Linked DNA regions of Homo sapiens. The protein of the gene in region 1 purifies or fractionates together with the protein of each later gene. This does not show direct contact. Each region holds a gene or a part of one and is shown on either strand. Other genes may lie near its edges.

What was found. The genes of interacting proteins can lie anywhere in the genome.
Region 2: the proteins of GSTA1 (region 1) and ACOX1 purify together in Homo sapiens (affinity purification with mass spectrometry; 2 studies listed by BioGRID and IntAct, with this or other methods). This does not show direct contact.
Region 3: the proteins of GSTA1 (region 1) and ZBTB21 purify together in Homo sapiens (affinity purification with mass spectrometry; 2 studies listed by BioGRID and IntAct, with this or other methods). This does not show direct contact.

What each region holds. Positions count from the first base shown.
Region 1 is NC_000006.12:52,790,165-52,794,862, reverse strand, and holds the end of GSTA1 (glutathione S-transferase A1), read left to right. Parts: intron 1-596; coding exon 597-738; intron 739-1,875; coding exon 1,876-2,007; coding exon of another isoform or gene 2,008-2,139; exon of another isoform or gene 2,140-2,815; intron 2,816-2,882; coding exon 2,883-3,005; 3' UTR 3,006-3,492; downstream 3,493-4,698. UniProt on the Homo sapiens protein: Glutathione S-transferase that catalyzes the nucleophilic attack of the sulfur atom of glutathione on the electrophilic groups of a wide range of exogenous and endogenous compounds.
Region 2 is NC_000017.11:75,972,667-75,977,042, forward strand, and holds part of ACOX1 (peroxisomal acyl-coenzyme A oxidase 1), read right to left. Parts: intron 1,120-4,376; coding exon of another isoform or gene 959-1,119; intron 1-958. UniProt on the Homo sapiens protein: Involved in the initial and rate-limiting step of peroxisomal beta-oxidation of straight-chain saturated and unsaturated very-long-chain fatty acids.
Region 3 is NC_000021.9:42,003,861-42,008,236, forward strand, and holds part of ZBTB21 (zinc finger and BTB domain-containing protein 21), read right to left. Parts: exon of another isoform or gene 3,960-4,376; intron 1-3,959. UniProt on the Homo sapiens protein: Acts as a transcription repressor.

The DNA.
Region 1 (4,698 bases):
GAAGGGGATTCTTAGGTGGGGTCTCAGGAAAGGCACACATGGCTAGAGTTGCGCAACAGCACATGGAAAGGGCTGTGGAAATGTGTTTCATGGGTGTAATTGAAAGAACTGCAAATATGGGGCATAGAAGCAGCCCTGGGAGCTGTAAAATGATGAGAGAGGACAAGGAATATGGCTGACATGGCTGTGCCAGGGACTCTCTTAGGATTACTTAGGAAGCAGGTCTTTGGCCATTTGACTCACACTAAGTTCATGCACAGAACAAACCACAATGGAGATGATAAATCTTGGCACAGCATCAGTGGGTACTGGCAGTGATTCTGCCAATTTCTCTCATGACTGTGACCACCGACGTTCTTTTTACCTGTATTAGGTCATGTGTGTAACAAAATTTAGAGATCTATCTACCTTGATAGGTTAAGAGATAAATGTTAATATACCTGTAAAACTCAGAGCATAATGACTAGACTATAAAAGGCACCCACTGGAGGTGAATTATTTTGCCATCACCTGATACTCTACTCCCTTAGGTTTTTATAAACCTATAAAATCTAAGGCAAAAGGTATTTGACCATTTGGTTGTTTCTGTCTTTCAGGATTGATATGTATATAGAAGGTATAGCAGATTTGGGTGAAATGATCCTCCTTCTGCCCGTATGTCCACCTGAGGAAAAAGATGCCAAGCTTGCCTTGATCAAAGAGAAAATAAAAAATCGCTACTTCCCTGCCTTTGAAAAAGTAAGTGAAGCAGTTCAGTGTTTTGGGGAACTGAGTTTAGAGGCCAATAGAAAAATAGTGGCTGGGCATTCCTGGGTCACTGATCTTCACTTTCAGTGAGACTTCCTGAACACCAATGCAGCACTCTGACTCTCAAGGCATTTTATGAAAATAGACTTGGAGAAACAATTGTATCATTTATACCCAAGCTATACTTTTCCAGTAAAATTTTAATTTACTGGACCCCAACATGGAATTACCTGTTCAACAAGATTTCATGTTCATAAGTAGAATGTGGGCTCTGGACCACACTAGAGGTTGCTGTTGAGTCTATGGAACCCCATGGACTTTGACTGAACAGGGGCATGATGAAAGCGATCCATCAGAAAATATTCTGGCACCATATGCAGGAAGATAGGAGACCAATTGCCCAACCAGAGAATACTGTAGCGTTTCAGGGATGGGTATTTTTTAAAAGGAGAGTGATTGTGGGATGCAGAGGAAGATTTTTTAAAATGGATTTTAGAGTAAGTTGCAGACATCAGTGCAGTTCACCCGTAAACGCTTCAGCTTGCAGATTATAACATAGTGCCAGTTGGGAGTGAGAGTCAATGCTGTAAGAAAGATGAATTCAGGTTCACCCAGGTTTCCTACAGATCCCAGGGAGATAGAGCAGGGAATGAGGAGAGCAGACAAAGAGAAATGAGGACTCTGAAATAGTCTCCTCCTGGGGAAGAGTGTTGTCATGAAGGTGGAGTCACTGCCCAAGGGAGATTGGAGAGGGAGAGAGCAGAATGTAGAGCCACATCCTGAATGTGAGGGCTCCACGCTGTAGGGCCTGGGGCAGACAGAACACATGGAGGCAGGTGCTAAGCCCCTGGCCCATGTGGAAGAAGCAAGCTGCGTGGGTGGTGTAGATGCCACAGTGATGTAGAATGAGAAGAGAAAATGGGAGCCTGAGCTACAACTGAGGAGTGAGTAGAGTTACAGTTCTTACTCTCTCATTCATTCAGATAATGTGGAGAAAGCTCTGGATTTCTGCACCCATGCAGTAAGGCAACAGAGGTGGGGAAAGTCAGGGTGGAGAGGCTCCGAAAGAAGCAGGGGTCCTAGCCTGGGTGTGCATGTGTTCCTGATCTGATTCCTCCCATTCTCCAGGTCTTAAAGAGCCATGGACAAGACTACCTTGTTGGCAACAAGCTGAGCCGGGCTGACATTCATCTGGTGGAACTTCTCTACTACGTCGAGGAGCTTGACTCCAGTCTTATCTCCAGCTTCCCTCTGCTGAAGGTGACCCATTTCACAGCCCAGAGAGGCAGCCCCACATCTCCCATCTTGGGATCTTGTATCTGGGCCCTGCGACTGACCAAGTTTTGCCCCAGTCTTCTCCAGGCCTTCAGTGCCCCAAGGTCTCCAAAATGAGCTTCCAGGCTCCAATTTTGAGGAATGAAAACACTTTTGTTATGGAAAGGAAATCTGTGCTGCATGCTACCCCACAAAGAGTATTTTGCCCTTTATTATGGAAAGAACCCAGGGCCCAGCATCTCTCCCCATCCCTCTATTTCAATGTGGTTTCTGTTCCTGAGTTCTCTGTGATGTCCTTTATCCCATATGTGCCCACAATGAGCCGGTCTGAGCAGAGCCCTTTCCATCTGGTTTCCTCCCTGGGCTCCGGCTCCTGCTGTCTGACATTGTGTTCCTCTCTGCACAGCTCTCCAGAACACTGGCCCCCCACACTGTATCTCTCACTGAGAAAAGGTGGTCCCATGGTTTGTCTTTAATATTTTCTATAACTATTCCCTTCCCAAATAATTTCCCCATGTTTTCACTTCTGCTTAGAGACTCATCTGTGTTGATATCTCACAGGCACATTATTTTTTCTTGTCTTATACAAGAGTCACTAATCTATAGGATTAGTGTGTAAGGAGAAAGATAGAGATGACTGAACTGATTAAAACTTCAAGACATCTTTGGGGAAAATAAAGTGAGCTACATGTCCTTCCCCTTATCTTCATTTCTCACTGGGTGTCTGTTTCTGCCTCCATGCTTGTGCTGATGGAGCAGACTCACTTGGTCTTTGCAGGAGGGGCTCAGATTCCCTGGGTCATGTTAATGGTGGTGTCAGCCCTTGGCTTCACTCTGAGGCTGTGCTTTATGAATTACAGGCCCTGAAAACCAGAATCAGCAACCTGCCCACAGTGAAGAAGTTTCTACAGCCTGGCAGCCCAAGGAAGCCTCCCATGGATGAGAAATCTTTAGAAGAAGCAAGGAAGATTTTCAGGTTTTAATAACGCAGTCATGGAGGCCAAGAACTTGCAATACCAATGTTCTAAAGTTTTGCAACAATAAAGTACTTTACCTAAGTGTTGATTGTGCCTGTTGTGAAGCTAATGAACTCTTTCAAATTATATGCTAATTAAATAATACAACTCCTATTCGCTGACTTAGTTAAAATTGATTTGTTTTCATTAGGATCTGATGTGAATTCAGATTTCCAATCTTCTCCTAGCCAACCATTTTCCTGGAATTAAAAATTCAGTAAAAAAGGAAACTATAGATTATGTGGTTTGTTTGACTTTTCCAAGAATTGTCCCGTAACATACAATTTGTCATACAATCTATTAAAATGTCAATGTAGAAATGCACTTCTGACATTTTCAGGTATGCACAGGAGAAGAGTTACCATCCTGGATAATGGCATAAAGACATTTTCTTCTTTTCCTGGACAGTCATTTTATTTCTGATAAAAGCGTTCTTTCTTATGCATTTGCAAAACAATGATTCTGTCTGCTGTGGATTCCTCAGTTTTCTAGGAGGTGAGGAAATACTGAAGAGCAAACAGACCCACCCTCTGCTCTCAGGCCACCCTATTGTCCCTTACAGTGTGTGTGCTCCTGGCTCATCCTCACTCTGCTCCTTAAGGCTCTGTGGGGTCCCAGGCATAAGCCTTCTCTCAGTTCCTTCAGTGCCACTCAGGCCTGGCTGCCACGATACAGATGGTATATGTGAAATACAAATAACTATATGCAAAATCATTTTTCCCTGGTGTGTCACTGTGCCAGAATGCTTAGATTAGGAGTGCTTTCTAGCTCCACCCCCATACTGGTCCCATAGTGCTAATCTCTCCCAGGACACCTGGGCTTCTGCAATTTGCACTCTCCTCCTCTTAGAGGGAGCTTCCCCACAGTTGGCAGAGGTGGTTGAGGGAGCAGACAAACACACAGGCTTCCTACCTGCAGCTTCACTTTGCTCTAGTCTCTTCTCCACTTACAACCAGAGTAGTTTTTCCAAAATACAAATTGGAAAAATACTCACAGAATTCTTCAGTGAGTCCTGACTGCATATACAATGCATCCTCACACCTGTCTTCACTCCGTGATCTTCAGCCCAGTCAACTCTCCGAGCATGGTGGGGCCTCTTGCCTTCCTGCCTGGGTGCGTTTGCTAGCCCTGCCTGGCAAGCTCCTTCCCAGTGGACACACTTAACACTACCTCATTGCTTCCCAGGAGCACTGGGCTGTCCTCTGCCCTCCACAGAGTCCCAGTGAGCCTCTAATAACACCTGAGGGCCACTGTGTCTGCTCCCCTGTACTGTGAGCCTGTGGTGTGAGGCTTGGCCTGCTGGGTCCCCAGTGCTTCATCACTAATGGACAATGACATCTGCACAGACCCATGCACAGCTCTATGCAACTCCAGAACCTGGGTATATGAGATTGGGCTTTGAGAACTCACAAACCCCCACACTCTCTACCTGTCTCTATTCATTCATTAATTTCTAAAAAAAAAAAAAAAAAATTGACTCATATCCCTCAAATGCTTTGTAAGGACCTTGCTTGCATGCTGACCAAAATAAACAAACTGCTAAGAAATTTTTATGGGACACTTACATGAACTAGAACGCTGGAGCTTTGATGAAATTAAAGAATTATAGAATTTTAATATGATAAGAGATTATCATATTAAACACAATCATAGTGTGATT
Region 2 (4,376 bases), on another chromosome or scaffold:
AATCTTATCTTCCTTTACAAACCTTTCTTTCAGGCTTATAATTTCAGTACTGACCATCTTGAAGTTGAAGTCTTGAGTGTTTAGTAAAGTGTCTGGAACATCAAACCATGACCAGAAAGCTGCAGTACCCATGGAGATGACAATAAATAACATTTTCCTTAAACCAATTCACACACTGAAATCAGCAATCAAACACAAAATGATGTTTCCCTGATATCTGCATCCCTTTTTCTTTCCCTTTCTTTACTCCTGCCATTTTGATAATTAGACATGAGGCTGGGCAGTTCAAATTCCAAACACTCAAACCTGCCAATGGCCTTGTCTATGAAAACAAACCTATTTCACATTAAGATCAAAAGCAAAACTTTTTGAAGGAAGCCAGATATTTAGGAACAATTTAACAAAGAATTACTGGCAACACAAGAGTTCCCAGACATGTAGGGGAAAAAATGTCTAAAAAGACTGAAGTCAGATGAAGAGAATCATGGACTTTTTTCCAAACTGCCTTATAACCCTGCTAGTGGGCAATGAGATGAGACAGGTAGCTGCCACTGCCTGCTGCCCCCATTAAAATCCACAGCTTTAACTGCATTAGAGCAGAGAGGCGCTTTCCAGATATTGCTGAGGCACTAACCCTCTGAAGAATTTCCAACAAAGTCTTTACTCATTAGACCCAGAGTAACATAATGGGGTTCCCCGCTGCACTGTAAACCCCATCTTTTCAAGCTGTTCAATAATAAAAGGCTTTAGGAAATAACAGTGAATGACGTTTATAGGCCAGAGCCCTGGACCAGTTTCCAGGGAAAATGTCTAGGAGAAAACAAGAAGTTGAATTTTGACTTAACAACTTAAAAATAGAATCCCAAACAGGTAGCAGCAGAAAAAAGTCAAATGCCAGCAATCACTGTTAACTGATGTCCTGAGGTGGGTTACCCACAGACCCTCAATGTGGACTAACCGTGGCCCATTTCCGTCTGGGCGTAGGTGCCAATTATCTGGAGTCCTTTGGATGAAAGCAGCCATTTCTCTTTCTGAGCAGTGGTGCCCTGATTCAGCAAGGTAGGAATAAACATGGAGTAATTGAGGCCCACAGGTTCCACAAAATTGACCAAATGTAGTCTACAGGAGAGAAGAGAAAAGGATCTCAGCCTTCCTTTAGAAACTGCATCCTACAACCCCTTCTTGCCAAACAGCTTTGGCCTTCAAGGAGAAGGTCAGGAAAATGTAAACCCCCTTCTTATGAAATTAAATATAAGATTTACCATTTTACTACCTAAAAAGCCAGCAGCAGAACCTGATGATCTCTCTTCTTCTAATTATTTCAAGGCCACAGTTCCCACAGTTCATTTCGTATTTACATTTAATCCACTAAGCAAATTCTACCTAAGTTTTAGCATAAAAACTTCTCTAATTTTTGGAAGGGGAGGTTGTTGGTGTTATTTGCTGGTTTGATTGGTTGAATTTTTTAGAATGTGTGTGGTTTTTTTTTTTTGCTTTATTTAGGTTTTACCTGTTTGTTTCAAAGAGCAAAAATAACTCCATAGAACACTTATTTATAGCGCTGTTAACAAGAGCTCCAAGGAAGAAATAATTTCAACTATGTTTCCCTAGATAATATAAGCAAATATCCAAAAGAGTAAATACATATTCCAGGGCAGAATCATACATCGCTAAAGGTCTTCAGGGTTTACAATAAGTAATGTGGGCATGTAAAAATTTATCCCCAATGGTCAATGAACATTACTACGGATTAACTCTACATCACATTGAAATTTAGTCCTCAACTCTCTTCTTACAAAACAGAATCCACAGTAGTTGGCCTTGGCTGTGCTGTGTCATAGATTTTATAGGGATCAATTTTGTACTTTGACAAAGCTCGTATCTAAAAAGTTTAAAGTACAAAATACATCTCATCTAACTGATCTTCACGACTTCTCAACACATGATTAGGAAGCAATGTTACTACCAGTTTATCCTAACCTGTGCAATGAGCAGAGCATGAACTAAAGGACAGAAGGGATAGGCTGCCATTGCAGTGCTGGGGGACCCTGAAACCAAACTACCACCTTAAAAGAAATAATAGTAGCCGGGCGCGGTGGCTCACGCCTGTAATCCCAGCACGTTGGGAGGCCAAGGCGGGTGGATCACGAGGTCAGGAGATCGAGACCATCAGATCGAGACCATCCTGGCTAACATGGTGAAACCCCGTCTCTACGAAAAATACAAAAAAAAAATTAGCCGGGTGTGGTGGTGGGCTCCTGTAGTCCCAGCTACTCAGGAGGCTGAGGCGGGAGAATGGCGTGAACCCGGGAGGCGGAGCTTGTAGTGAGCCGAGATCGCACCACTGCACTCCAGCCTGGGCGACAGAGCGAGACTCTGTCTCCAAAAAAAAAAAAAAAAAAAAAAAGAAAGAAAGAAAGAAATAATAGTAAACACAATATACCCTTATTTTTCTATTTCCTAAATAAGTACTACACGGTTATCCCCGCCATTTCTTTTTTTTTCTTTTTTGGAGACAGTCTCCCTCTGTTGCCCAGGCTGGAGTACAGTGGTGTGATCCCAGCTCACGGCAACCTCTGCCTCCTAGGTTCAAGTGATTCTCATGCCTCAGCCTCCCAAGTAGCTGGGATTATAGGCGTGTGCCACCAAGCCCGGTTAATTTTGTATTTTAGTAGAGAAGGCGTTTTGCCATGTTGGCCAGGCTGGTCATGAAGTGGCCTGGCCTCAAGTGATCTGCCCACCTCAGCCACCCAAAGTGCTGGGATTACAGGCGTGAGCCACCATGCCCCAGTCCCATTGTCTTTTCTATCTTACATAAATCATAATCCACTTAGAAACAAAAAACTCTCAACATGGATGCTCTTAGATACGAATATTTCTAATTAATCAAAATGAATTAATGTAATCATTATAGATTCCACCAGAGGGAACGACTTCTGCGTCCTAATCATGTGTTTAGAAGCTGCTCATTAACATCAGTTAAAAATGTTTTCTCAGCCAGGCGCAGTGGCTTATGCCTGTAATCCCAGCATTTTGGGAGGAAGGGGCGGGTGGATCACAAGGCCAGGAGTTCGAGACCAGCCTGGCCAACATGGTGAAACCCCATTTCTACTAAAAATACAAAAGTTAGCTGGGTGAGGTGGCAGATGCCTCTTCACCTGCTGATAATGGAAATAAATGGAAATGCAGAGAGAGAGAGAGAGAGAGAAAGAAAGAGAGAGAAAGAAAAAGAAAGAGGAAGAGAAAGAGAAAGAAAAAGAAAGGAAAAGAAAGAAAAGAAAAGAAAGAAAGAAAGAAAAGAAAAGAAAGAAAGGTGATGTATTTCACAATTAATAGCATGTCACGGTTAACTGGCAGCATTCTTTCTTTCTTAGTGGTACACAAAACACTGGTGTGAGTTATAATCGATGAGATTATATAACCGAGGCTTTAACTCGATAGCATGCGATAATTTCCAGGACTCATTTACAAACCCCTTCTCTTACTTAAAAACTGATCTCCTTGTCATATCCTAAGGACATTGGAAGTGTGTCAAAGGGTGTGTTAAAGTTTGTACTTTAATACTTCACATGAAAAATGATACACAAAACAACTTCCCGGTGTCCATGAATCTTTAACCCGCATAAAAGACTTTGTTCTATTTCATTGTGACCTCACTCGAGTCTGGTTCACATTATCAACAGGTCACAGGTTATGAAATCATCTCTATCAGCTTTGAAATGCACTGCACCACCCATTCAAACACACACACACACACTCAACCCACTTTTTTCCTGACGTTTCAAGAAGGAATAAAATCTTACTAATTTTTTCAAATTTACAAACACAACACAGGTATCAGTAACATAATCTTCTAGGAGGAGTTACTCTATCTCAATATCCCCACAGCCATGAGTTACAAACTTCAAAAACAAAACAGACCATTTGGAAGTATGCTGATTTGAACTACCAAAAATAAATAAACAAAATTTTTTCGTTTAAAACTGAGTGGAGCTCTGAGGAAAGTCCAAAGTGCCAGAGTAAACCATTTCATCTTCACAAAAATAACCCAAGTCAAGCTGAAAATCGATACCAAAGGCACTAGAGGCAGTGACCATTATTACCATAAAGGCAGAACGTGCAACATGTTCTATTTAGCTTGGTTCTAGTCTATACACCACTCATACGATTTAGTCTTTACCGATGAAAATACTGGAGTTCCTTTAAAATGGAGAAACCTAAAAGAGAAAATGCCCAGGAATAAATGAGAAAAAAATGCTATAGGCCAAAATAATCTTGTACTAGGATCATGTAATAGTGTTTGTTTAGGTTAAGGCAAAAAAGTCTTTTTTTTTTTTTTTTTTTTTTTTGAGACAGAGTCTCTCTTTGTTGCCCAG
Region 3 (4,376 bases), on another chromosome or scaffold:
GGGCTTGCCCTGGCCTCAACTTCCAATTCCCTGGAATGGCTACAAAACCCTTCAGAACTGGATTCCAGAAGATTATTTCATACCATCACTTCAAATTCCTCAGGTAATAAATGCTAAGGGGGTGGGGGACTCATATCTCACATCTTTTTTTTTTTTTTTTGAAGAGTCTCACTCTGTCACCCAGGCTGGAGTGCAGTGGCATGATCTTGGCTCACTGCAACCTCCGCCTCCTGGGTTCAAGCAATTCTCCTGTCTCAGCCTCCTGAGTAGCTGGGACTACAGGCGCCAGCCACCAGGACTGGCTAATTTTTGTATTTTTAGTAGAAATGGGGTTTCACCATATTGGTCAGGCCGGTCTCGAACTCCTGACCTCAGGCGATCTGCCCACCTCGGTCTCCCAAAGTGCTGGGATTACAGGCCAGCCACCTGTAAGATATGAGCCACCGCGCCCGGCCTCATATCTTAACATAAATTAATTCAATGCAAATACTTTCCTCTTTATAGAGTGTTAAATCAGTTGTATGGAATTAAGATTTTTGAGGGAGAGGGAAGGTAGGCAATTTCGAATATAGAGCATTCTAGTGAGAAGCAGAGGAAAGCAAAGCGACTTGGCACTCAGAAGGGTACCAGGGGGTGAGTGAGGGGGTGAGAAACAGAGATGGAAAGGGATCAAAATAATCTCACCTACTTGGACTAGTGTCATAGCTAAGGTACACTATAAATTAAGTTGGCTCCCAGACTAGCCACAAAACTGCTACTACCAGTTCTACAGGAAAATGGCTCTTTACATCCAGCATCAACCTAGATTTCAACTCTGGGAACATGGGTCCTTTGGAATGTTGGGGATTGCTTCTATAGTCCTAACCATGATACTAGAAAAAAGAGGGAATGCATGTAACACAAGGCAAATACCTAGTTAAAAAAACAAAGCATCTACATTTGACTTTGGAACATAAACACACACACACAGACTGCTTATCCCCAAACCCTCATTTCAGGATTTAGCCGTAACACCTACCATTGGATTTTACTATTTGATGGTGATAGGAAGTTGCCTCTGAGTTTCGGTCTTATCATCACTCACTTGGTGACAACGCAAATATCCTCAGATTTCAAACCTAGACTAGCTTATCCAATCCTTCAAGAGGAGTCATGTTACTATCTTGTATTCCATTTCACCACACTTTCAGTCTCTAACAAGGGGGTTTGATTTTGGTTTGATGGTTGTTCTTGGCCACATTCAGGAGAATGATCCTACTCCAACATAGTTCAAGCTCCTTTGCACCTTAGCAGAGCAGACTCTGGTCACAGCCTTTGCTGTTTTCTTCCAGCCACTACACAGCCATTCCACCTCCTGTTAACAGCCCCATGATTTTGCTATAGAAGAACTGCTCTTGTCCCACTGTGTGCTACAGCCTGATGTGCTCCTCTCCCCTACCTCTGGGCTAACCATACAACCAAAGCCAAACCAATCAGAAACTTTGTCCTCGGAATATGAATCCTGAGAAGAATGACAAAGGCAATAAATAAATGAAGCTGACTTATCTCAACGGAGGCCTGAAAATGCAACCTTGCTAGTGCCTGCTACATAGATTCCTGGAGTTAGCTTGGTTTTTGTCCTTCTTCCTGGCCCAGTTTTTTAGCTTTTCTTTTAAGTCCAAGAGCAACCCTGTATCTTTACAATAAACTACTTTTTCCATTCAAGCCAGACAGTTTCTGTTCTTGTTATTAAAGAACCCTAATATATTTCCACGTGGTATTCACTGTTCCTTGTCATGCCTTCCAAACCCATCCTAATACAGCTTCTAGACTGAGCTTCTTAGAACAAAGCTTTGATCGCTCACCCAACATACACGTTAAATATTCCTATTATTAATTCAACTTATTTACTGAATTCCAATTCTGTACAAGGCATGGTTAGATTTATCTGAAATATAGGGGTGCACCAAACAGACAAGACCCCCACTTTCTAGTGAGATAAATCAGATGCTAAGGAAACAAATAAAAAAGACAACCTCAGATTCTGCTAAAAGTTATGGTGGAAATAAATAAGGTGCTATATCGCTGGATGCAGTGCCTAGAGAGGATGGTCAGAAAATACCTTGATGGAATATTTCAGCTGAGACCTAAGATCTGAATGAAGAGAACCAGCTTTGATCCTGTTTAAAAATAAAATAATAAAAACAATTGTTCTCCATTAGGCTAAAATTTTTAAAACAATGACTAAAGGTCTCTATAAAATCTGGTTTCAAATGACTTTTAAAATTTTCTTAGCCAGGTGTGGTGGCTCATGCCTGTAATCCCAGCACTTTGGGAAGCCAAGGCGGGTGGATCACCTGAGGTCAGGAGTTCGAGACCAGCCTGGCCAACATGGTAATACCCTGTCTCTACTAAAAATACGAAAATTAGCCGGGTGTGGTGACGGGCGCCTGTAATCCCAGCTACTCGAGAGGCTGAGGCAGGAGAATCGCTTGAACCTGGGAGGTGAAGGATGCAGTGAGCTGAGATCGTGCCACTACACTCCAGTCACCACTGGGTGACAGCTGAGCCAGAGCGAAACTCCGTCTCAAAAAAAAAAAAAAAATTTTTTTTTCTTTCCCTTAGTTATTCCCTAGTGATCCCTTTCTGCTCCAGATACTCTGTCTCTAAGACCTAACCTGCACATCTGACTTCTCCCACTCCCCAATCTGGAAAGTCCTAGAACTCACCTAAACCCCTCCTCAGCACACTACTCAGAATATTAATCACCTTTCAAAGCTCAGGTCAAGTTCCAGCTACTCCATAAAATCTTCCATTATGGGTTGAATTGTGTCCCCACTCTTCCCTCCCAAATTTATATGATAAAGACTTAGCCTCCAGTACCTGGAGAATGTAGTCATACTTGGAGACATGGTCTCTAAGAGGTAATTAAGTTAAAATGAGGGCTTTAGGGTGACCCCTAAACTGATGTAACTGGTGTTCTTACAGGAGAGGAAGATTAGCACAGAGACATGAACAGAGGAAGGACCAAGTAGGGACAAGAAGATGCCATCTATAAGCCAAAGAGAAGCCTCAGAAGAAGCCAACCCTGCTGACACCTTGTTCTTGGACTTCTAGCTTTCAGAACTGTGGGAAAAGAAATCTGTTGAGTCATCCAGTCTGCAGTACTTTGTTATAGCAGCCCAAGCAAATGAATATACCTTCCTTGACTACTTCATCTTATAACGTGCAAATACCTCAACTTCAGCACCATTTACATGTTTATTCACTGCCTTTATTGTTAGTCATTTGTGTCTCCCCAAGAGGACTGAAAGCTATTTAAAGACTGATAATCTATTTAATATCTTTTGGCATTATCAATGCTCAACATGTTATCTTCCACAACAATAAAGATTTGACTTTTCTGTACTCTTCACTCCAATTAAATGCACGAGTGAAAATTATGGCTGTTAGTTGTTTTGCTGAAGTAAAGCGTATTACATCACTGCCCTGCTTTGGAGTACTGTACTGATTTTTCTATTCCTAAAGAAAATCCAAACTACAGACTGGCATACAAGACTTTTCATACTCTGGTTACAATTCATCTCTCCACCCTTATTGGACACTACTTACCATCTACTCTACAAACTTGCATATCCAGCCTCTGCCACCCAAAATCTCTCTCTTCCCTCTCCTTTACTTGGCTAACTTCTTTCGAAAGATCCAGTTGAAATGTCACCGACTCTACAAAGCTTTTGTAATTTGCCCCTAGCCAGCAGCTCAGTCATCTAAACTACCACAATACTTCATCTCTCTGTAATAACACCACAACTTCTTCAATTAATCTTCTTTTACATGTGTCTCCCCCAAGGGACTCCCTAAAGAAAGAACCCTTGTTTGCATGCACGTATCCCTGATGCCCAGCACAAGGCCTGGCAAGCTAGGTACAGGGCAAAGAGAGAAATCATCAAACTTGAGGCTCAAGACCTGGACTGGCTCACCTTTATTTCTCCAGCATCCGTTACAGAGCCCCAAAACGTGGCAGTATTCTTTGCTTTTTCTATTAGACCTTGTGACTTTAATCACTACTGGACGATGATTCCCAAATCTGTATCTCTGTTTAGACTCTTGAGGCTCCAGCCTCTCAGGTACCTACTGAACGGTTCCATCACAGTATATCCTCAGGTCCAGCATGGTACTTAAACTCCACAACTCTCGTCCCTGCTCCCACATCTGTTTGTCCTCACATATTCCCGATTTACTTTGGTGTGTTGCCAGACCCTAAAATTTCTTCTCTTTCCCTTATAGCCTATCACTGTGACCTGGTCAAACCTAGCTCTTACATAGCTTATAATCTGCTCTCTCTACTTCCATTGGCTTTGCGGACAACTAAAACTGTCCCTTCGGCTGGGCGCAGT